Linked DNA regions of Homo sapiens. The protein of the gene in region 1 interacts with the protein of each later gene in a biochemical or structural test. Each region holds a gene or a part of one and is shown in the gene's direction. Other genes may lie near its edges.

Region 1 (8,319 bases):
ATCTATTGCTGCATAACAGACGAAACTATTCCCAAAACTTTGGTAAAACATCAACCATTTATCAGTGCTTGTGAGTCTAGGGTATGCTGGGGAGTTCAGTTCACCTGGGTCAGGCCCCCACTTTATCTTGCCTGGGTTCTCTCATAAATCTGAGGTCTAAACTTGAACAACTACTGTGATTCAACTGTGGTCTGTGTGGTCTCTCATGCTCCTGCAAGCTAGCCGGACTTCTCATGGAGGCTGGGCAGGGTTTTGAGAGCGGAGTGTGTAAGGCCTCTTGAGGCCTAGACTCTAAATGTCACAATGTCACATCTGCTGCAAGGTGGGGAAATAACAGAGCAGGGAATAATCTGGCCATTATTGAAAATCATTGATCAGGAGAGCCTTCTTAGTTTCAGTTTCATATAATGAAAACTACGTAACTGATATCTTTTTGCCCTGGTTTGCAGGCTGTACTGTATTCTTTATCTAGTTATTGTAGATATTTCTGCTATAAGTTGCTTTAAAATGCTTTGTGCAACAAGGCAGATAAACTAAGTAAATAGAACTGGATGATTTGGGTATAAAAGAAACAGTGAGTGAAGAATAGGAATGATACTGTCTTTTCTCCAAGCAAAATACAGTTCCTCCAAATGGGAAGTGTGGAGTAGTTCTTAAGTCTTTCTACTGTAACATCATGTGAACTTATGAGTTACTCCGGTGACTTCACATCAGTTACTCATCATATAATAGTATTTTCTGGATTCCTCACTGTCCTTGACTCTCCTTTGTCTGTACACCAGTTCAGGGGTGGCAAATAGGAAATTTCACCTTACCTGTTGCTTCTGATTGATTGCTGGTGACAGTGTACCCTGTCATTTGTTGCTCTTTTAAATCCAATACAAGTAGTTGCATTTATTGTTTTAAATGTTGTCCAGTTGATGGGAGGCTGAGGGAGGAGAATCGTTTGAACCTAGGAGGGGGAGGTTGCAGTGAGCCAAGATCGCGCCACTGCACTCCAGCCTGGGCGACAGAGTGACACTTGGTCTCAAAAAAAAAAAAAGTTATCCAGTTGAGGCCAGGCACAGTGGTTGACACCTGTAATCCCAGCACTTTGGGAGGTCAAGGCAGACAGATCACCTGAGGCCGGGAGTGTGAGACCAGTCTGGCCAACATGGCAAAACCCTGACTCTACTAAAAATACAAAAAATTTGACGGGTTTGGTGATGTAGGCCTATAATCCCAGCTACTTGGGAGGCTAAAGAATGAGAATCGCTTGAACTCAGGAGGCGGTGGTTGCAGTGAGCCGAGATTGCACCAATGCACTCCAGCCTGGGCGACAGAGCGAGACTCTGTCATCAATACATACATACATACATATATACATACATACATAGTATCCAGTTGGTTTCAGACCAGCAGCAGTCCGTTAGAATATTTAGATTATTTAGAATTTTGATTTAGCGTGGGAACCTGAGGCATGCTGTCTCCTAGCAGAGGGAAGGAGCACACAAGAACAAGTTGATTACAAAGAACACGCAGTTTCAGGACAGATGGTATATACATCACAACTGTTCATATTCCTTTATCCAGAACAAGTCACATAGCCAAGGTCAGAGTTACAGCACACAGAGAGGTATACTCCACCCTTAGTGAACCATGGCAAGCAGTGGGAAGGGACAGAAGAGATTTGAAAATAGTACAATCTACAGACATAGTGTTAGCTGTTTTTTCTAGTTTTGTGTCTTTTGCAAATCTGACATTGTTGATATATAGATATAGCTTTCCAAGCTGACTGTTATAAGGCAACCGTCACACATTTGTATCTGTCAAATTCTGGATTTCTAGGTTTTTGTTTGGCTTTGGTTTGATTGCTTTTTGAAGCAGTCAATATGTTATACAGTAAGAAAATATAAATAGTTTATCCTTCAGGAATATTGAATCTTGGAGGCATAAGGATTGGACACTTCAAAAACCATAATATTAGAGAGTGTATAGTTATTGTCCAAATAAATAGAGACACATATATTATTTGGTCATTCAGAGACCCCAGATTAATTGCTACAGGTTGAGGTGGTTCTAGAAAGAGAATATAGTATTTGGGCTGGGCTTTAACAGGTGAATAAGAATTTGGTAAGTGAAGAGAGTGAGGAGCAAGACTTGCCATTCAGTATGTACAAAGGGGCAGAAATCAGGAAATTAAAAGCATGGGGGGAGTGCTGGAGCTAGACGAGGTTAGTTGGGAAATGCGACAATGATAGAAAAGGCTGGAAAGAAGGAAAGAAACATTTTGTGGAGGATCCAGACTAGCAGACAACATTTGTGTTTATCATATGTGCAAGGAGAGTTGTTAAGGCTTTTGAGCAGGGAATGACTATATCAATGCAGTATTTTAAGGAATTGAATTTGGCAAATATAGTGAAGGAGAAAGAGACAAGAAAAAGGTAGTATACCTAGAGATTAGCATAGCATTCCAATTCTCAAGTGATGAAGGCTTATGGTAGGTATTGCTGTGGATGCTAAAATAAAGGGGGGTAGGGAAGGAAGCATCCACAGATCTTGATGATCCAAATTGGGATTTGGAGTGCCAAATAATCCTATTTGCAGATGTTAGGATTATTCCATTCCTTCATCAATATTGAAGCTAATATCTGTGCAAGTTTTATAGTACCAGAAAAAAAATTTTTAACATGTAATCTACCCTTCCTAGAGTCAACTTTTGATATAGTTTGGCTGTGTCCCCACCCAAATCTCATCTTGAATGATAACTCCCACAATTCCCACCTGTCATGGGAGGAAACTGGTGGGAGGTGATTAAATTATGGGGGCGAGACTTTCCTGCGCTGTTTTTGTGATAGTGAATGAGTCTCGAGGATCCGATCATTTTAAAAATGGGAGTTTCCCTGCACAAGCTCTTTGCCTGCCGCCATCAATGAAAGATGTGACTTGTTCCTCCTTGCCTCCCGCCATGATTGTGAGGCCTCCCCAGCCATGTGGAACTGTAAGTCCATTAAACCTCTTTATTTTGTAAATTGCCCAGTCTCAGGTCTTTATTAGCAGCGTTAAAAATGGATTAATACAGCTTTTTTCAGAGAACAGTAAAACATTGTCTTGGTTCTTGGGTGAGTAAGAGCAGAAGGGACACTTTTGGTGCCGTGGCATCTCTTGGCAGAGAAGTCTAATTTCACTGCTAACTTGCTTTGTGAGGGTGCATTTGTGACAAGAAGAACAAATAGATGTGCAAAGAAAAAAAACTCATACACACACATATAGGCATATCCATGGGAAATTATTCAGATCCTTCTCCTACCCCAAAGTGCCTAATTATTCAAGGCTTGACTCAAATCCCGTCTACTTGAAGGAACTAATTGATTTTATGAGCATATAGTCCAAAAAGATTTAGTTTGTCTGGCTTCAGCAATGCCTACCTGGAGAAGTGACATTTAAGCTGAGATTTTTAAACTAAGATCTAAAAGATGAGTTAGCCAGCGAAGAGTTGGGTGAAGCAGATGTTGGCTCAAGGGGTTTTCCAAACTCAGGGTGAGAAGTCCCTGAGTTTGGAGAGTGTGGTTTATTTGAAGAACTAAATGCTGAAGTAAGCAAAGCAGAGTGGCACATTATGGGGTTGGACAAAGAGATCGGGCAACCAGGGCTTTATAGTATGTATTAAGAAACTGAATTTTATAAGAGCAAAGAAAAGCCATGGAAGGATTTTCAGGTTGGCAAATGACATGATCTGCTTTTCAATTAAAAAAAAAAACACTCAAACTCTTGTATGGAGAATGGATTAAAAGGTAGATAAGGGCTGAAGTGAGGCAGCCATTCGGGAATCTACTGCAGAAGGAGGCAGCAGAAGAGATGGAGCAGAGTAAATGAGACTTGGGAAATATTTAGGAGGAAGAATCAATTAAGATTTGAGGATCAGGTGTTGCGAGGTGAGGGAGAAGGCAATGTCAACTATGAATCCTAGGTATCTGTCATGTGCCATTTCTAGAAAAAGAGCAGGTTTGAGGAGAAAGATGTTTGGTTCTGAACATAGTTTGTAGAGCTCACTGCACATACAAGTGGAGAGGCAAGTGGGAGTTGTAGGTGTGAAGCCCAGAGGAGAGGTGTGGACGGGATAAGCATTTAAGACTCCTCCATCTAGAAGGAAACTGAAGCTGTGGGTGAGGTCATCACAGCACAGCGTTTAGGAGAAGCCCAGGTAAAGAAGCTGACGAATGTCTGGACCCTGACAACCTTAACATATAATGGTTTGATAGTGGAGGTGGAGGCAATGTAGAAAGAATGCCAGAGGCAGGAAAAAGCAAGAAGGATGTGTTATCATCATGACCAAGGAAGAAACGTGTTTCAAGAACAAAGGCGTCAACTCTGCCCCATGCTTCCGAGCTGTCAAGTAAAGTGAGAAAAACAGAAAAGCGTTCCCTGGGTTTAGCAACACGGAGGTCAGTTGCTAAAGGGAGCTTCTAGAATGACGACGTCGCCAAATCTGTCCTCTGCCTGGATTCTCGGCGATGAAACTACTACAGAGACCTCCAAGTTTGGGCTTCTGCAAACACAGCACGTCCTTCTGATCGTTCTCTAAGATATGTAAACAGAACGCCAGTTCCCAGCGTGGCAACACGGGACTGGGCTGCAGCTCACCCAGCCGGCGGCCCCCGCCGGAAGCCGGCGGAAATACCCCAGCGCGTGGGCGGAGCAGCGGCCCGCAGAGGGAGGCGGTGGCGCCCACGGAACAGCCGCGTCTAATTGGCTGAGCGCGGAGCCGCCCGGTGATTGGTGGGGGCGGAAGGGGGCCGGGCGCCAGCGCTGCCTTTTCTCCTGCCGGGTAGTTTCGCTTTCCTGCGCAGAGTCTGCGGAGGGGCTCGGCTGCACCGGGGGGATCGCGCCTGGCAGACCCCAGACCGAGCAGAGGCGACCCAGCGCGCTCGGGAGAGGCTGCACCGCCGCGCCCCCGCCTAGCCCTTCCGGATCCTGCGCGCAGAGTGAGTGGCCGTGAGGTTCCGGGTGCCGGGGGTGGGACGCGCAGGGACAGAGTCCTCGGGCCGTGCAGTTGGACGCCGGGCGAGGACGGGCCGTCTGTGCTGACCCGCGAATAGTGATCCCAGAGGAAGAACGCGTCCTGAGTATTCCAAGTGCGAGCAGTGCCACCTGTTCTCGGAGATGGCACTGCTCAGCACGATTGTCCTTGCCAGTCGTGCTCTGGCAGTGAAGAGGACTTGTGAAATATAATTTTCCTCTAGAAGGCACTGCACCTTCCCATTTACCGTCACTTTCTCCCGTTTCCACCCCTTTCCATCAGTCACGTTTTCTTCTTTTCGCAGAAAGTTTCATTTGCTGTATGCCATCCTCGAGAGCTGTCTAGGTTAACGTTCGCACTCTGTGTATATAACCTCGACAGTCTTGGCACCTAACGTGCTGTGCGTAGCTGCTCCTTTGGTTGAATCCCCAGGCCCTTGTTGGGGCACAAGGTGGCAGGTCAGTAAATGTTCATGGAATCAGATGAATGAGTACATGACTTCGGAATCTTAATTATGTTTCTATGTTCAAAGATGGAAGGGCTTAATGTCTTCCTAGAGTTTAAAAGTGATGTTTAGTTTTTGCAGACCCCCCACCCCAAAATAATATAGTCTTAAAAAAATTTCTGGCCGGTACTGAAGAGTTCTGTGGTAGGTATGCAGAGGTGTGGTTGATTGTGCTTTGAATGTTGTTTGTATAGATAAGGAGTTATTTTCATAGAACAGAAACAGGACTTGAGCCTCCAGCACAGTCCATTGTGCAACCATTGCTTAATGAGGATGCTGGACTCACACTTGTGAGATCATAATATGGTTTGCTTTTTACTTTCTAATTCCGTCTGAAATATACATAATTTCAATTCAACAAACTGTTTCGAGCACATAGTATATGCAGGGCACTGTCCAAGGTCCATAAGATGTTAAAAAGCAAAATACCCCACTACTCTACCCCCTCCCCACCCACCTTCCCCCGCCGGGGACTCTGGAGGCATCACAGAGCTTTACAAGGAAAACTGGAACCGATGCTCTAATAGAGGTACAGAATTCAGTGAGACGCAAGTCAAAGAAAGCTTAATTGTGAGTAAGTCTCAGACAACTTTATGAAAGAAGGGGCTTTTGTACATAGCTTTGAATGCTATAGGATTTAGAGACGCAAAAATTTGTGGAGAGGCTGTTTCCAAGGGCGAGTAGCTGGAGCAAAGCAGAAATGTTGGGCACAGTTGAAAAACAGTAAATGATTTGGTGACTGGGTTGCTTTGTTGATGGATGAAGATGGGGTGGGGTGGAAATCTGCCTAGGAATGGACAGATCATAGGATTTTTGCACAGGAGATTGATGTGGTCCAATCTGTGGGCAGCAGAGGCTGGACTGGGAAGGTAGAATGTTGGAGACAGGAAGGAGCAGGTCTTGGGATGGAGTGGAAGGAATCAACCCTAAATCTGAGATTTGAGCTCAGTGACTGGGAGATGGCCATGCCACTCCCTGAGTTGGTAACAGGTTTTGTGAGTAGATGAGACTGACTCCAGATTTGTGAACATGAGCTTATTTATTCATTGTTTTTTTTTTTTAGAGACAGAGTCTCTCTCTGTCTCCCAGGCTGGAGTACAGTGGCGCGATCTCAGCTCACTGCAACCTCCGCCTCCTGGGTTCAAGCAATTCCCCTGCCTCAGCCTCACGAGTAGTTGGGACTACAGGTGCACACCACCATGCCCTGCTAATTTTTTTTTGTATTTTAGTAGAGACAAGGTTTCACCATGTTGCCCAGGCTGGTCTTGAACTCCGGAGCTCAGGCAATCCGCCCACCTTGGCCTCCGAAAGTGCTGGGATTACAGGCGTGAGCCACCTGGCCAGCCCAAACATGAGCTTATTAATTCACCTCTTCTGTGCCAGGTGCTACATATGTACTAGCTCAACCAGCCTTAAGAACCAACTGTGGCAGGGTGCGGAAGCTCACGCCTGTAATCCCAGCACTTTGGGAGGCTGAGGTGGAAGGATTGCCTGAGGTCAGGTGTTTGAGACCAGCCTCAGAAACATAACGAGAGGCTGTCTCTACAGAAAATTTAAAAATTAGCCAGGCTTCTTGGCTCGTGTTTATTGTATTAGTCTGTTCTCATGCTGCTATAAAGAACTGCCCGAGACTAGGTAATTTATAAAGTGAAGAGGTTTAATTGACTCACAGTTCTGCATGGCAGAAGGCATCTCTTCACGGGGCAGCAGGAGAGAGAATAGATGCAAGCAGGGGAAATGCCAGTGGCTTATAAAACCATCAGATGTCATGAGGCTCACTCATTATCACGAGAACAGCATGGGGGAGACTGCCCCCATGATTCAGTTACCTCCACTGGTCCCGCCCTTAACACATGGGAATTATATTACAATTCGAGGTAAGATTTGGGTGGGGGCATAGAGCCAAACCATATCACTTGCAGTCTGAGCTCCTTGGGAGGCTGAGGTGGGAGGATTGCTCTAGTCCAGGGGTTGGAGGCTGCAGTGAACTGCGCTCCACTGCCACTGCGCTCCAACCTGGATGACAGAGCAAGTTCCTGTCTACTAAACACACACACACACACCTTGTTGATAGGGGAGTAAGTTACCTGGGTTCGCTTGGCTAATAAGAGGCGTTGCAGCTCCCATTGCCTGACGGTCCAGCATATCTGCTTTAGGTAGATCCTTATTAGTTACCAAGCAGGGAGGGAGACAGCCACAGATTTTTCCACTCAGGTAAAATAAAACTGAACTGAAAAATCAAATTGCTTCAGCAGGAGTGCCAAGGGGCTGGGCTTGGGTCCGTTTCTACTGGTATATATGAGGATAACTAGCTTTATAGGCCAGACATTTCCTCACACTCCTTTGGAAGGACATTTGTGGAGTAGGCGTGACCTCATGCCTGCATACATGTGCTCGGCTACAAGTATGCATACACACTCTTCCATGCCCTACTTGAAAATCCAGACTCCTTCCCCAGAGGTCTGGCAGGACAAGATTCACTTGTGTCTGCTCTGCATATTGCCACCTGTGTGCTGATATAAATCCTAAGTTACATGATGGTCATGGGAGACTCTCCGTTTTCCTAATGAATTTTAGGACTTGCTTATATCAAGTTTTTGTTGTGATTTTGAATCTTTAGGATCACTATGTAAAAATGGACTTAACAGTTATCCAAAAAGCTAAGTGTTACTTTATCCTTTTAAATTACATTTAATGATGTTTTAATCTTTAAAAATCATTACTTCTTTATGCCAGATTTATTGTTTGTAGTAGGCAAAGAAGAAAATATATCTTTTTAAATGTGTATAAGAAAAATAATGAATTTTACCATATG
Region 2 (7,722 bases), on another chromosome or scaffold:
ATGCAGATGTTCTGAGGAGAGCGGATCTGTAGCTTCTGTTAACTTCATTAGTGGCAACAGAGTATGTAGGGGTCAGGCTCTTGCTCCCTGGGCAAGTTATGTGACTTTGTCAAGCTTCAGTTTCCTCATCAGTAAAATGGGGATAAGGACAGTCCTTAATCTCTCAGAGGGCTGCTTGAAAATGCATGTGGTGTTTAGCACAATTCCTTCATGCAGATTACGTAATCAGGATGTATGATTTTCCAAGCAGTTCATGAATCCTGAAAACTTACGAAGTGGGTATGGGAAGAGGGGAGTTGGAGGCTCATGGAGTGACGGTGATGGTCTTTTCTGGAGCTGTGATGCCTGATGGTATAAAGCACTTCTATGTCTGCTGCCTCACCTGACTCCACAACATGAGAGGCAGGCCACTTCGTCATCCCCCTAGGCTCAGAGGTGCAATGACTTCGTTGAGGTCACACAGCGACTAAGTGTCCCTCCACACCACCCTGTCTCTGACTGGGGGACTTGGAGACTTCCCTGTTTCAACATCTCATTTTGAAAACAGGAAATGAAAACCCAGAGGCAAAATGAGCTCACAGAGCCATGAAGAGGCAAAAAGGGCGAGTGGCCCCTCAAGGAGGCTGGGGGGCGTGAAGAGGAAGTCTTGCCCTGAGAGGCTAAAGGGCACCACACAGTGAGCTGACAGCAGACACGTGGAGATGGGGCTTTTGGAGGGCTCTGTGGGCTGGCACTAAGCCTCCTAAACCAGCGTACAAATGAGTTAGCGAGTTCAGCGAGAGTCAGGCCACCACCTGCCTTTCTGTTTGGCTGTCACTGTGGGCAACACCATCCTCCAAGCAGCTGAGCATGGGCTGAGTGACGTGGGGAGAGAGGCCGTTCTCTGGGCTCCGTGGGGCTGGAGCCAGCTCAGCATGTGGTGCCTGTGGCAAAAATGCTGCAGTGGACCCTGCGTGTCCTGGGCATGGGTGGAATCAGAGACTTGCTGTCCAAGTCAGAATCTCAGCTTTTCTCCTTTCTCCTCTACCCTCCTCTCAGGTACCTGTGTGACAAGGTCGTCCCTGGGAACAGGGTTACCATCATGGGCATCTACTCCATCAAGAAGTTTGGCCTGACTACCAGCAGGGGCCGTGACAGGGTGGGCGTGGGCATCCGAAGCTCCTACATCCGTGTCCTGGGCATCCAGGTGGACACAGATGGCTCTGGTGAGTTGGCTTTGGGGTCCTGGCTTAGCCCTGCTAAAAGGCTGTGCTTGCATACTTCTGGTAACAGGCAGCTCGTTACTTCATGAGGTAGCCCAGGATGTCCTTGTGTTGCTCATATCATTAGAACGTTCATTTTTATATTAAGTGATCCCTGGAACTTCCACACATTGGTCCTAGCTGTGGCTCCTGGGCTGAGGGTGTTTGCCTAAGTGCAGGATTAAGGCAGAAGGACTGAGGTCAAATCACTGGGGAATTACTGAAAGCCAAGTCTTCACTTCTGTGACAGGAAATACAAGAGAAGTGAAACGCAGGGTTCCAGGCAGGCAGCCGCCTAGTGTCTAGTTGGAGAAATAAGAAAACTGTGAGACCGCTGGGGACATGTGGGTAAAGTGGTGGCTGTTGTGGGTCACGCAGTTCCAAGGAGGTGCTAAAGGAGGTCTGAGAAGGAGGAGGTCGGGGCTGGGCCTTGGGGAAGGTTTTCTGGGAGGAGGTTAATCTGAGCTGGGCTTTGAAGAGTGGTGGATGTGGAAGAACTTCCAGGCGGGAGGGGATGGCAGGAGCAGGTGAAAACCCCGGCCTGGGCAAGGTACTGAGTGGCTGGAGGGCCGAGTGGGAGTCTAGGGGATGAGGGGCCAGGTGGTGTAAGAGGCCTTGAGTGCCGAGATGGGGAGCTCCTGCTTACACCTGAGGGCAGCAGGGGCCACTGAGGGTTTTCAGGTTTGTTTCAGCCCTCTGGCTGCAGTGAATTGATTCAGAGGGGTGGCTTCCCCAGGGCTCAGTCCATGGCCCACCCCACATTTACACAAACTACCTAGATTATTACAACTTTAAAACCACTGACAGGTAAGTAGCTCTCACATTTCCATTTCTAGCCTGGGCTTCTCCCCACGTTCCAGACTTTAATAACCAACTGCTGATTTGACATGTTCACTTACATATCTGAAAGGCATCTCGAACTTTACATGGCTGAAGCTAAGCTCCCCTTTCCCCACCCTCAGACTGGCTCCTCTCAGTCTTCCCATCTTCACCCTTTCAGTTGCTCAGACAAAAACCCCCAAGTCACCCTTGGTGCTCTTTTCTCTCATCCCCCACATCTAATCACTCAGGAACTCTGGCCAGCTCCACCTTTAAAACGTGTCCAGGATCTGACCACTTCTCATCCTCCCCACCTGCTCTGAGCCCTTGTCAGCCCTCCCTGGATCACCGTTGATCCTCCCCAGTGTTCGTCTCCACCTTGCCCTACCTTCTCTGTTCTGCAGCAGCCAGTGAGCGATGCTGTCATGACCAAGACACTATATCACTCCTCGGCTGAAAGGGGAGACCTTCCAGTGGTTTCCAAGGTCCTATGCCATCTGGCCCTCTGTTTGCTCAGAACCCTTCTCCCCACTTCCCCTCACCCTTTGGACCCTGGAACACACCAGGCCCATTCCTGAGGGCTTGAGAGCTGGGATCTCTGTTTACTCAGATAGGTTGTGCTGTCCTGGCCCTAAGGGCCCTAAGGGCTCTGCCTTCTGGGAGGTCCCTGAGCTGGTGCCAGGATGGGCAGTGGGCTGGAAGAGCTCCCTTGTACTCACTCATGCGCCTGCTTTGCCTACCAAGGCCGCAGCTTTGCTGGGGCCGTGAGCCCCCAGGAGGAGGAGGAGTTCCGTCGCCTGGCTGCCCTCCCAAATGTCTATGAGGTCATCTCCAAGAGCATCGCCCCCTCCATCTTTGGGGGCACAGACATGAAGAAGGCCATTGCCTGCCTGCTCTTTGGGGGCTCCCGAAAGAGGTAGGGGCTTGAGTTCCCTTGGGTTTGGGGAGGCGGCTGATGATGGGGCTCACAGTAGGATAATTACTGGATAATCAGGACTGGGCACTCTTTTTTGTATTTCCTGGGCCCCTCAGTCTGCCAGGCACCTTTGCCAGCCCCCAAGCTTGCCATCAGCTGGCTAGTGGCTGATCTGCGCACCTGTCTCAGCGATGCCCTGACCCTGGCAAGGGGGAGACTGGGGGCCTGGCAAGTGCAGTGGGAGAGCACTGAGCTTAGGGTCGTGTAGGTACCAGGACTTAAATCTCAGCACTGAGCTTGGGGTCAGTAGCAGGGATATTATTAGCAGCTGCCATTTACTGTGTTCTTCCTATGCACAGCCATTCTTTGTTTTTTTTTTTTGAGACAGTCTCACTCTGTTGCCCAGGCTGGAGTGCAGTGGTGTGATCTCGGCTCACTGCAAGCTCCGCCTCTTGGGTTCACACCATTCTCCTGCCTCAGCCTCCCGAGTAGCTGGGACTACAGGCGCCTGCCACCATGCCCAGCTAATTTTTTTTGTATTTTTAGTAGAGACAGGGTTTCACCGTGTTAGCCAGGATGGTCTCGATCTCCTGACCTCGTGATCCGCCCGCCTCGGCCTCCCAAAGTGCTGGGATTACAGGCGTGAGCCACCGCACCCGGCCGCACAGGCATTCTTCTAAGTGCTTTATGTGTCTGAAGCCCAGTCATTCCTCACAGTAACCTGTTAACGCAGCTGTTGTGCCCATTTTATAGATGAGGGAATTGAGGCATAGAGAGTTAAAGGGACTTGCTCCCCAGCACATGCAGGGGAGCCAGGAGCCTGCTGTCATGGTGCTTGTTCTGCCGCACCGTGCACAGCCCACAGGCAGCTCTCTGTCCTTTTCTTTCAAGCTGGGAGGAACGTTGCTCAGATGCTGGGTGTACCCGAGCACAGCCATAAGAGCCATTTCCTTTAACCCTCCTCTTCTGGGAGGCAAGCTCTGTCCTCATTGCTAGGCAAGACCTACCATGGTTTGGGAACTACAGAGCTGGGTAGGAACATGGGTCTCAGGCCACAGCCACTACCTTCTTACCAACTCTGAGGCCCATGATAGTTGGGGGAGTCAACTGCCAGCCCACCAATCTGGTGACTGGATGTCACATGCGATGCCCTCATGGATTCTCACCTTGTCCATCTACCCTTCGTCCCCCAGGCTCCCTGATGGACTTACTCGCCGAGGAGACATCAACCTGCTGATGCTAGGGGACCCTGGGACAGCCAAGTCCCAGCTTCTGAAGTTTGTGGAGAAGTGTTCTCCCATTGGGGTGAGTGGCCTGGGATACCTTTGCCACCTTGGCTTGCAGGGAGGAAGGCTGCAGGGCAGGGCCTCTGGGTCCTCAGGACACCTGTGGTGGGCTGGCTCACCCGGAATCTCTTCCTCCTTTCTCTTGGCTGCGGTCAGGATGGCCGAGGAGATGGGAGGAAGAAGGGAGCCAACAGGTGTATGTAGGTTTGGGGCAGGGGGCGAGTACACTGTACTGAGAGTCAGGATGGGGTTTGGGTCTCACCCTGGCCAGAAATTGGCTGTGGGCTTTGAGTAAGTCACCCAATCTCCCTGAGCGTCAGTTTATCCATTTGCTAAATAATGATATTGTTATCATTAATAGCTAAAATCTGGCTGGGCATGGTGGTTCATCCCTGTAATACCAGCGCTTTGGGAGGCCGAGGTGGGCGGATTGCTTGAGCTCAGGAGTTTGAGACCAGCCTGGACAACATGGTGAAACCCTGTCTTTACCAAAAATACAAAATAACTAGCCAGGCGTGATATGCACCTGTGGTCCCAGCTGCTTGGGAGGCTGAGGTGGGAGGATCACTTAAGCCCAGAACGGGGAGGTTGCAGTGAGCCAAGATTGTGCCACTGCACTCCAGCCTGGGTGACAGAGTGAGACCATGTTTCAAATAATAATAATAAATAATAATAATAATAATAATAGCTAAAATGAAGGGCCAGACACTGCTTGAAGTACTTTGCATATATTTACTTAGTCTTCACCTCAACTGTGTGGCAGGTACTATTACCCCTGTGTTAGGGGTGAGAAAACTCAGGTACAGAATGGGTAAGTGTCTTGGCCCAGGTCTCACTGCTGGTAAGCATTAGAGCAGGATGTGATTGAACCCAAGTGTCTGATGAGCTGGGTCCTCTGCTGCGTTGTTGAATGGGTCTGCGGGGATCAGAGCCAGAGAAGGTCTGACATGATCCGAGTGGCGGGGTTGTATAGGGCGAGATGGTGGTCTTTGGATAGATAGGAAGTGTGCCAAATTTGCCACACTGGCACTGTCCAGTAGAAATAGTGAACTGCACATGCGACCCATGTATGTCTTCTCAGATTGTCTAACAGCCACATTAAAAAGTAGCTGGGTGCGGTTGTGTGCATACCTGTAGTCCCAGCTACTTGGGAGGCTGAGGTGGGAGGATCACTTGAGCCCAGGAGTTTGAGACCAGCTTGGGCAACATAGCAAGACCCCGTTTCAATTTAAAAGGAAGAAGGGGAAAGAAAAAAGGAAAAACAGGTGAAGTTACTTCTGTTTAACTCGCTATATCTAAAATCTCATTTCAACATGTTGTTTGATATGTAGATTATTGAGATACTTTACATTCTTAGGAGCTCTGAGTCTTTGAAATCGTGCGTATTTTGCACGATTAAGGACATCTCAGTTAGGACTTTCCCAATTTCAGGGGCTCTATGGCAGTATGTGGCGTGTAGGTCTATATAGAGACGACAAGGGACTCACGATGGGGGCAGGCTTTCCCTGGGAGTCAGGAGTCCTCATCCTAGCCCTGAGGCTAACTCCTCTTCTCTGGGCCTCAGTTTGCTCATCTGTGAGTTGGGCCTCACAAGACTGTGTCACAGGGCTGTGGTGAGGCTTAGGTGAGCCATGGATGTGATGCCCTCAGCGGGGAGAACATCTGGGCACACCGAGGCCCAGGGCAGCATCCCCTTCCAGAGGGAGACGCACTGAGTTGGAGCCTTGAGTCCTATTCTGTACCCTGCAGCCAGCTTTGATGTGTGACCTTGGGCAAATCACAACCTCAGTGGGTCTTTTTGTCTTATGGGGGTCAAAGCATGGAGTTGTTATTGGGCCCTGACACCACCCCACTGCCCCAGGTATACACGTCTGGGAAAGGCAGCAGCGCAGCTGGACTGACAGCCTCGGTGATGAGGGACCCTTCGTCCCGGAATTTCATCATGGAGGGCGGAGCCATGGTCCTGGCCGATGGTGGGGTCGTCTGTATTGACGAGTTTGACAAGGTGAGTCTGATGAGGTGGGTAGTAGCCAAAAGGTGGGTGGCACCAGGGTATGTGACTTCCTGTGCTCAGCCAGCAGAAATCACCTCTGACTTGGGAGACATGTTTTCAATCCCTGGGCCGGTCACTCTAGTAACTGTGGGAAGCTGCTTAACCTCTTCAAGCCTCAGTTCCCATATCTGAAGAGTGGGGAGAAGAAAGGCAAGCCCACACAGTTGTTCCCATGATTAGAGGTGACCTGGTTGCTGCCATTGGCCTTGCGTGGAGCTGGTATTCAGGAGTGAGGGCTGCTGTTAGTTTTCCTGTTTCTACTGCTCCCTGCTCCCTCACTTCAGTAGGTCTGATGATATTTCTCTCTTCCCCACTTAGATGCGAGAAGATGACCGTGTGGCAATCCACGAAGCCATGGAGCAGCAGACCATCTCTATCGCCAAGGTGAGTGGCCCTCCATGGAGAGCCCAGCCTGCAGCAGCCCAGCGTGGCCCAACCGTCCTCAGGCTGCCCTGATTGGGACCAAGTTCTCTTTGCCCAGGCCTAGAATCTGTGTGTGTGTGTGTGTGTGTGTGTGTGTGTGTGTGTGTGTGTGTGTGTGTGTGTGTGTGTAAACGTGTATATAAGAAGGCATCTTTGCCATCTCCTCCCCCTTTTCGTCGTCTGTCGCCTGTTAGGCTGGGATCACCACCACCCTGAACTCCCGCTGCTCCGTCCTGGCTGCTGCCAACTCAGTGTTCGGCCGCTGGGATGAGACGAAGGGGGAGGACAACATTGACTTCATGCCCACCATCTTGTCGCGCTTCGACATGATCTTCATCGTCAAGGATGAGCACAATGAGGAGAGGGATGTGGTACGTCCAGGGGCAGGGCTGGTGGCCATGGGACCTGCCTCCAGGCAGGCTTGTGATTGTGTGGGAAGGAGAATGGAGAACAAGGGCCTTGGCTGGCAAAGTCCTGACTGTCAGGCTGTGAAATTGGGGAGCACGTGAGAGGGCGGTTGTTGTGGACTGCAGAGGATTGAAGCAGGGTCTGGAGTCCTGTGGCCTGCTCTGCCTCTGCCGTGAGTGATAAGCTGTGTGATTTGGGCTAAATCAGTTTCTCCCTGGGCCTCAGTCCCTTATATATGAAACAGAGGAGTTGACATTGGGTTATGAGTAATAGAACCTCAGTTCTGGTTAGTAAATTTTTCAAAGAAAAAAACATAGTGGTTTATAGAATTGGTAAGTCCGGCGGCTTAAGGCCCAGGTAGATCTGGATTCTCAAACAACTGTCTCTGCCTTTCTGTTCTGCTTCCCTTGGTGGAATCTTTGTACTTGGGCAGCTGTTCCTCTTGTGGTGGCAAAGACAAAATAAGATTTTGTCCTGTTAGCTTGTAGCTTAACAGCCCCCAGGAAAGAGGAGGCCCCGTCTTTTCCAGTACTTCTATCAAAAGTCCCAGGATAGACTCCTATTGGCTTGGGTAGA
Region 3 (7,722 bases), on another chromosome or scaffold:
TGGAAAAAACATACACATACACAGATTAAAATAATATTTGGCACTTACGTCGCACTTTTAAAATTCTTCAAACGCTTTATAAACACTAGCTAATTAATTAAGCCGCCTAAATCTGGCTGCAGTCGGTGGAGAGAGCTCGAGAGGAGCTAAAAAAAAAATGGGGGAGCCAGCGCTACACAACTCCAGATTTTATTGTCGCCTGCCTGGGGTGTGATTACAGGCCTCCGGCTGCACCACAAGAATAGCCCTGCTCCAACATGCTGCACGCCTGACTCCGCAGCCTCTCCTGCGCCTCCTGCTCCCTCACCAACTGCTGACTCACAGCCCCTTGTGGTGTTATTGATAAGGATAATAATAACTGCAAGCCAGGCTGAGTCCCGGGCTCCGGGCCTGCACCCTCCCCTGGATATGCCAGTATCAACTCCACCTAACACATGAAGAGAGAGGAGATTTGCCCAGGGTCATGGAGCCAACGACATCCTTCCTTCCTTCATTCATTACCGCATTCATTCTGCATATTTTTATCGATGACACTGTGTTTTAGGCAGGAGGTTGGAAACAGTCCCTTGTGGATCCTACATCCTACTATTGGGAATGTGACAATCCAGAGAAAATCAAATATGTGAATAATACAGCTATGTGATAATAATGGGAATAAGAATTAAAACTTACCCAGCACCTATGCAGCAGGCATACCACCGTGTCAGGGTCCTCATGACTGTGCTGGGGTGGATGCCGGAACCCCACTTCATGGATGATGGAATGGGGGTCCAGGGAAGGTGGGTACAGAGGTGGCTAAGAGGGGAGCCATGCTGTCACCCAGGCCTGCTGGCCCTAGCAACTGTGCTTCCCCGAGGCAGCCTTTCCAGTTGGTCCAGTCTCGAGGCTGAAATACAGACCTATCCGGAAAGTTCCTAGCTCAGTGCTGCTGGTGCTGCCTCTGATGTCCCCGCCTGGATGGGCCTCCCGGGCCTCCCACACATTTGGCCACCAGCCTCACCCCTCTCAGGCCGTCTGATGCTGGCTGGGCCTCTGTCCACTGTGGGTTCTGTCTGTCCACTGTGGGTTCTGTTTTTTTCTCCTGTGCCATGAAGATCTTGCCATGTTCAACTTCAAATGGAAATGAAATGAGAAGCTGGACTTCCTGATAATAAAAGCAGTTGAGGTCTTAAGTGGTTGATCAGGAAAAGGAAGTCGAAATGGTAATATTTACACCCAAAGCAGGTGGAGTGGTCTTAGGCACTCTGAGACTCCACTCACCTGCCATGAGAACCGGGCCCCAAGGGTGATCCCTTGCCAGAGTCAAGACTGGGTGAGGCTGGGAATGGGAGAAAGAGGCAGGACAATGGGCAGATAGCCCTGGGCTTCCTGCAGTGAGGGCAGATAGGGGTCTGTGAGCCTCTTTCCCTGGCTGCCCTGCCCCTGCCAGTGGGGTGGTGCCAGGCCATGGGTTGGTGGGCAAATTCACAGGGTCTCTCTCCTCCCCAGCCAGAGCCAGAGGGGCACAGCAGCTCTGGACATCTGCCGCAGCCTTGTCTGATGTACAAGGCAAAGGTGGCCCAGGTCAGGGCAGGACAAGGTCACATGAAGGGTCAGTGGAGAGCCCAACTGGGGCCCCAGGTCACCTGTCACCTGCATACCAGGTAGCTGCCACTCCTCTGTCTACCTGGTTCTCTCCTTCTCCCCTATTCTAGCTCGCTCTCTCACTCTGCGTCTGTCTCTCAGGCATGTGTTTCTCTGAGGTCTTTATGATCATGATCTTTCTTTTTTTTGTTTCTTGTACCTCACCTTGTTCAGAATCGAGGCCCTGGCTCTGCCTTGCTCTGAACTGTTCTCACTTGGTCCCTATCCATCTTCAACGCATCTCATGACAAGCTCGTCCTGCCCTCTTCCTGTCTGGGCTCCCCCCGTGCACCCCAATCTCTCCACCCAGGGTCCCTGTCTTGTGTGCCCCAGTGTCTCTGATTGGGGCTCAGGCTCCTGCAGCCAACCTCTACAATTCCTTCCAGCTGCCCATTTGGGAGCCCTTGAGGCCTGGACTGGGTCCAGCTCCAGTGTGTCCCCATCACAGTGAGGCCTGGATCACAGGGCATCAGCAGGTGTTGGTGAGAGTGAAGTTTGAGCCACAGCCACCTCCTTGTTTATTCAATGTATAGTAACAACAACTTCCTCAGGGCCCATCTCAGGGCTAAGTGACTTCTATGTGTGATCTCGTTTTCTTTTCAGAACAAAGCAGAGGCCTGGGGGCTGTTCTACCCATCCTGTAGATAAGAAAACTGAGACTCAAAACTGATGGATAAATTAAGGTCCCACAAGAACAAGGGGCGAGCCAGGTTTCAAACCAGGTCCGATGACTCTAAAGACCAGATGCTGCATTTGGACGCTGTCCCCAGCCTTGGCTTATTTTATCCTCCCAGAGATCCATCGAGGTGGGGTCATAGTAACTATTTTACAGATGAAGAAACCAAGGCTGAGAGCAGTAAGGGCAAACTAAGGGCAGCTCTTGCATTTGTGTGACACTTTGCTAGCCAGGCTCAGTCCTGGGTTCCAGGTGGGGACTCAAACACACTGGCACGAGTCTACATTGGATATTCTTGGTTACCTGAGTGGTGGCCCAAGGACACAGCTATAGGCCACTGATCCAGAACTCAAACTACATTCTCCTACTGCCCAAACCGCTGAGTACAGCCTCCCTTCTCGGGGCCTGCATCCTGGGCCAGGCCAGAAACAGAATCTTAACACCTTGTACAGCCCCAGATATGCCAGGCCCCTACCTCTGAGTCTTTGCCCAGGCTGTTCCCTCTGTCTGGAATACCAGGCTCCCTTCTGGCTCATTCAGATTAGAATTAGCCCAGCTCAGATGTGACTCTTCCAGAGAGGGTCCAGGCATTCAAACCCACTCTCTGCCATGTCATTTAGCTTTCTGTGCCTCAGTGTCCCCACTTAGAATACAGGCTCATGTTGCAGGTTTGTTGTGAGGGTCAAATGAGATGATACATGCACTATACTGATCTCACAGCCTGCTTCTGGTGTGCATCCAGTCAATGAACGTCATTGATAAACACTTGAGGAAACACAGAGGATCACGTAAGGATGAAAAAATGACTGCTTTGTGCTCCTTTCCAGGAGTGGCGGGTGAGGAGGAGCTGCAGGTGATTCAGCCTGACAAGTCCGTGTTGGTTGCAGCTGGAGAGACAGCCACTCTGCGCTGCACTGCGACCTCTCTGATCCCTGTGGGGCCCATCCAGTGGTTCAGAGGAGCTGGACCAGGCCGGGAATTAATCTACAATCAAAAAGAAGGCCACTTCCCCCGGGTAACAACTGTTTCAGACCTCACAAAGAGAAACAACATGGACTTTTCCATCCGCATCGGTAACATCACCCCAGCAGATGCCGGCACCTACTACTGTGTGAAGTTCCGGAAAGGGAGCCCCGATGACGTGGAGTTTAAGTCTGGAGCAGGCACTGAGCTGTCTGTGCGCGGTGAGTACAGCGTGGGCCTCCTTTGCCTCTGGTTTGTGACAGTAACTCAATAATAACACCCTCCATTCTTTGAGCAATGATCAGGTGTGGTGGTAGGTGCTCCTTTCCATGAATTGATGTCTCCCCCTTTTACAAATAAGGGAAGTTGAGGCCTGAAGACGTCATGCTATTTGCTGAAGGCTCCACAGCTGGTAAAGGGTGGGAACATCTGCATCCTTCATCTGCCTGGCTGTGTAGCCCTGGCCTCTTCAAAGCTGACCCAGCCCTTTCATTCCACAGATGAGGAAACTGACAGATAGTGTGACTTGCCCAGGCACAGGACCAGACCTCACCTGCTGCCTCCAGAGAGCACTTCCCTCTCAGGGCAGCCGAGTCTCCTCTATGTGACAGGCACTCACTGAGAACCTACTGTGTGCCAGGCTCCGCCAAGCTTGTGTTCTCATCCCTTCCAATAAGAGATCCACCCAGGGCAGGGAGCAGAGAGGGTGTGTTTCCTTTATTTCATCACCAAACACCAACTGAGAAGATTCCTAAAAGGCACAGATTTACTGTTTAATCTGATGGCCCTGGTGAGAGGAGAAGCCAGAGGGTTGGGCATTTTCTGTGGGTCTTTTAGAAAAACACTTGTGTGATTTAGGGACTGATTCATGCGTCACTAAAGGCTCTGAACAAAGCTGGGTCATCATAGAATGTCTCTCACCCCAGGGAGGAGGTCTCCCTTCTAGGTGACTTTGGGTTCCTCCGTTAAGGCAGCAAAGATGCTCATTTTGTATTTACTGCCAGAGCCCCAGGATCCTTGTTCTAACTCCGAATCCTGGGACATTAGTACAGGAAGGACCCTCAGACCATCCAGCCCAACCCCTAGTTACAGGTGGAAACTTGAAGTCAGGAGATGACAGGGGCCTTGTCCACAGTCATAGGCCCAGTTAGTGACAGGATCTGGACCAGAGCCCACATCTGATTCCAGGGAGGCTCCTTCATTAGCCATTGTTTACATAGAAGAGCCTGGTGCATCATAGGTGCCGACTGAAAGCTCCTTGAACAGAACTGCTAAGCAGGAAGCCAGCACTTCTCCTTTCCATCAGTTTCCTAAAGGTTCAGAATATTCACATTCAGACCGTTAGGCCCACTGGTGATTGGAAAACCGCTCCCAAATGTAAGCCATATCATTTGATACTGAGATTTCATATCAGGATAGAGACCTGCTCCATTGTGTAATAGCTACAGAATACTCCAGCTTATGGAAATACCAGATTTATTTTACCATCTTCCATTGATGGATACGTAACTTGTCCCCAAACTTGAACTATTAAAACAGTCCTGCAGTGGATGACCTTATACATGTGTGACCTTACTCAGGTGGGAGACGCCCACTGCAAGTGCCATTGCTAGATCAGAGGGGGTGTGTGTTTTAATGTGTGTGGATATGGCCTAATTTCCCTCCTAGACATTATAACAATCAAGTCTCCCCACAACCGCTGGACATAGGCAGGGAGGGTGGCTTTATCCTGATTGTGCAGATGTTACAGGAAAAGACGTTGAAGTTCCCAGATGATGCATCTCGTGCCTAGACAATCACAGCAAATACGTGGCTCAGGTGTGACCCAGATCTGCTGACTCCTAGCAGAGTGCTCACTCCTCTTTGCCATGCTGTCAGCCTAAATGATGCCCTGGATGAGAAAGGAGGGAGGTGGGAGGGGGCCAGGGAGCAGCAGCTGGATTGGATCCTCATCCTGGCACTTTCTCCTTTTATAACAAGTACTTATGAAGGAAGAGCCATTTCTTGCCCCCTTTACAGATAAGGACTCTGAGGCTCAGAGAGGAGACCTGTGTGGTGAGCCAGTGGGGGAGCCAAGGTTTGATCCCCACCAGCCTGACTCACAGCCCCTGTCTCTGTAACACTCAGCTATGCTTGTCAAAGTGTGGAGAAATGCTCCACCCTACTCATTCCAAACTCTTGCAGTTCTATAGCAATAAGCATAGGCTGAGGCAGGAGAATGCTTGAACCCAGGAGACGGAGATTACAGTGAGCCGAGATCGCACCACTGTACTCCAGCCTGGGTGATAGAGCAAGATTCTGTCTTGAAAGAAAAAACAAAACAAGTCCTATGGGAGTAGGAGGGACTGGCCCCCATCAGAAAGGTCCTGCAGATGTCTCATGATATGGGAACTTGTTCCTAAAGGACAGGTCTCAGCACATCACTGAGTAGCATCCATGGAGCAGAGTTGGGCCTCCTGCAGCCCAGCAGACCACGTGCCCACCTACTCACGGTGCTGAGGACTAAGGATGAGGAGATGAGGCATTTCCTGGTGGGTGCTTGGGGCTCATTGGAGCAAGAGTTTATATTATCCCCTCAGGCTGTCAGGAGCCCACTGACTTCAGTTTATGGCTATAGGGTAACCAGATCTGGGTACCCTGGAGGGAGGCTTCTCCCTAGAACTGCATGAAGTCAGGGATCTCAAAGGGAAAAAGGGAAGGTGGTGGTCAGTGTCAGGGTTCATGAAGTTCAGGCACTTGCTCAATTGATTGACATGAGAGCTTGGGGAACACTGGAAATGCCCATTGGGTACATGAGGGATGAGGAGACAGTGCCTTCGCTTTTCTCAGCCTCAGTTTCCTCATCTGTAGAATGGTGATAATCAGGGACTCCTTTGGCAGAGTGGAAAGGATTTGAGTTCCTGTGTATAAAACACCCAATGCAGAGTAGACACCCCCAAATCAAGGTTTTTTGTTTGTTTGTTTGTTTTTTCTTTTTTTTTGAGATGGAGTTTCACTCTTGTTGCCCAGGCTGGAGTGCAATGGCACCATCTCGGCTCACTGCAACCTCCACCTCCTGGGTTCAAGCGATTCTGCTTCAACCTCCCAAGTAGCTGGGATTACAGGGGCACCCACCACCACACCAGCTTTTTTTTTTTTTTTTTTTTTTTGTATTTTTAGTAGAGACATGGTTTCATCATGTTGGCCCGGCTGGTCCCAAACTCCTGACCTCAGGTGATCCCCCCACCTCGGCCTCCCAAAGTGCTGGGATTACAGGTGTGAGCCACTGCGCCCTGCCATCAAGGTGTTATTTTAAGATGTGTTACCTTGGGCAACCCAGTTCCCCTTGCTGAGCCTCAGTTTCCCCATGCGTAGAACGTCGATAATTGTACCAACCTTTCCAGGATGTTATGAGGATGCAATGAGCCTGGGGCGACGATAGACCTTAGTAAGCAATGGGGTTTTCCCAAGGTCATGTGATCTTGGGCAAATCCTGGCTTCCCTTGAGTCCTCAGCTTCCCTGTCTATGAAATGATGATGATGATTGCCAACCCTCACAGGTTCTGTGAGGATTGGAGAGGATGTACAGAGCCTCGGAATGGTGGCGGTGTTCGGGTTATCACTGAGCTCCTGCAGAAGTGTGGTTAGGAGAGTGTGGCCAGAGTCCAACTGCCTGGGCCACATCCCAGCTCTGCCACCTCCTGGCTCTGTGACCTGGGACAAGGCACTCCACCACCATGGGCCTCAGTGTCCTCACTTGTCAGTGATAACACCAACCTCACAGACCAGGAGTTGGGACCGAATGAGTTAAATCCTGTAGCGTGCTTAGGGCAGCAGGCGCCTGGCCTGCAGTCAATGTTCAACAGATGTGAGCTGTGTGATGCTGAAGCCATGCAACCTCAGATGGGTTAGTGCTCCTCCAGGCCTCAAGGATAAATGGTCCTTAGGATGTACTCAGGTAGTTTTCAATCTTGGCTGCTCTTTAGGATCATCTGGGAAACATTGAAATAAATCCCAGGCTCCACCACAGAAATGCCTCTTCAATTGGCCTGGCATGGGCCTAGGCATCTAAAGTTTTTAATTAATCCAGAAGATTCTAATACAGAGTCAGGACTGAAAACCCCTGGGATAGACACCCAGAGGTCACGGAGGACAAGTTGGAAAAGATGGTCCTCTTGGGGTGCCAGATGGGAGAACAGCTTTTCAGGGTGTGGATGCTTCTGAACAACGTGCACCCGGGACAGCTCTTTGGAGGCCCCAGTGGCCTGGCCAGACCCCCTCTTATGATACAGGCCTCGGGGGCCAAGGTAGGGGCCCCAGACAAAGCCCTGCTCAGATCCAGCCTCAGTGTGGGGAAACCTTCCATCCTGAAAATGTTTTTGTCTAAATGACCGCCGGAATCCCAGCAAATCCTTCCAATTCGGCCCCAGAACCCTCCCTGCCTCGACACACCAAGATGTCACGGAGGAGTCTGTTCCCTC

What was found. The genes of interacting proteins can lie anywhere in the genome.
Region 2: the proteins of STAT1 (region 1) and MCM5 form a complex in vitro, tested with the Homo sapiens proteins (2 studies listed by BioGRID).
Region 3: the proteins of STAT1 (region 1) and SIRPA form a complex in vitro, tested with the Homo sapiens proteins (one study listed by BioGRID).

What each region holds. Positions count from the first base shown.
Region 1 is NC_000002.12:191,010,663-191,018,981, reverse strand, and holds the start of STAT1 (signal transducer and activator of transcription 1-alpha/beta), read left to right. Parts: upstream 1-4,810; 5' UTR 4,811-4,964; intron 4,965-5,303; 5' UTR 5,304-5,457; intron 5,458-8,319. UniProt on the Homo sapiens protein: Signal transducer and transcription activator that mediates cellular responses to interferons (IFNs), cytokine KITLG/SCF and other cytokines and other growth factors.
Region 2 is NC_000022.11:35,409,706-35,417,427, forward strand, and holds part of MCM5 (DNA replication licensing factor MCM5), read left to right. Parts: intron 1-1,038; coding exon 1,039-1,205; intron 1,206-2,804; coding exon 2,805-2,976; intron 2,977-4,169; coding exon 4,170-4,281; intron 4,282-6,123; coding exon 6,124-6,267; intron 6,268-6,633; coding exon 6,634-6,699; intron 6,700-6,932; coding exon 6,933-7,109; intron 7,110-7,722. UniProt on the Homo sapiens protein: Acts as a component of the MCM2-7 complex (MCM complex) which is the replicative helicase essential for 'once per cell cycle' DNA replication initiation and elongation in eukaryotic cells.
Region 3 is NC_000020.11:1,911,973-1,919,694, forward strand, and holds part of SIRPA (tyrosine-protein phosphatase non-receptor type substrate 1 isoform 1 precursor), read left to right. Parts: exon of another isoform or gene 1-2,350; coding exon of another isoform or gene 2,351-2,429; intron 2,430-3,126; coding exon 3,127-3,483; intron 3,484-7,722. UniProt on the Homo sapiens protein: Immunoglobulin-like cell surface receptor for CD47. Acts as docking protein and induces translocation of PTPN6, PTPN11 and other binding partners from the cytosol to the plasma membrane.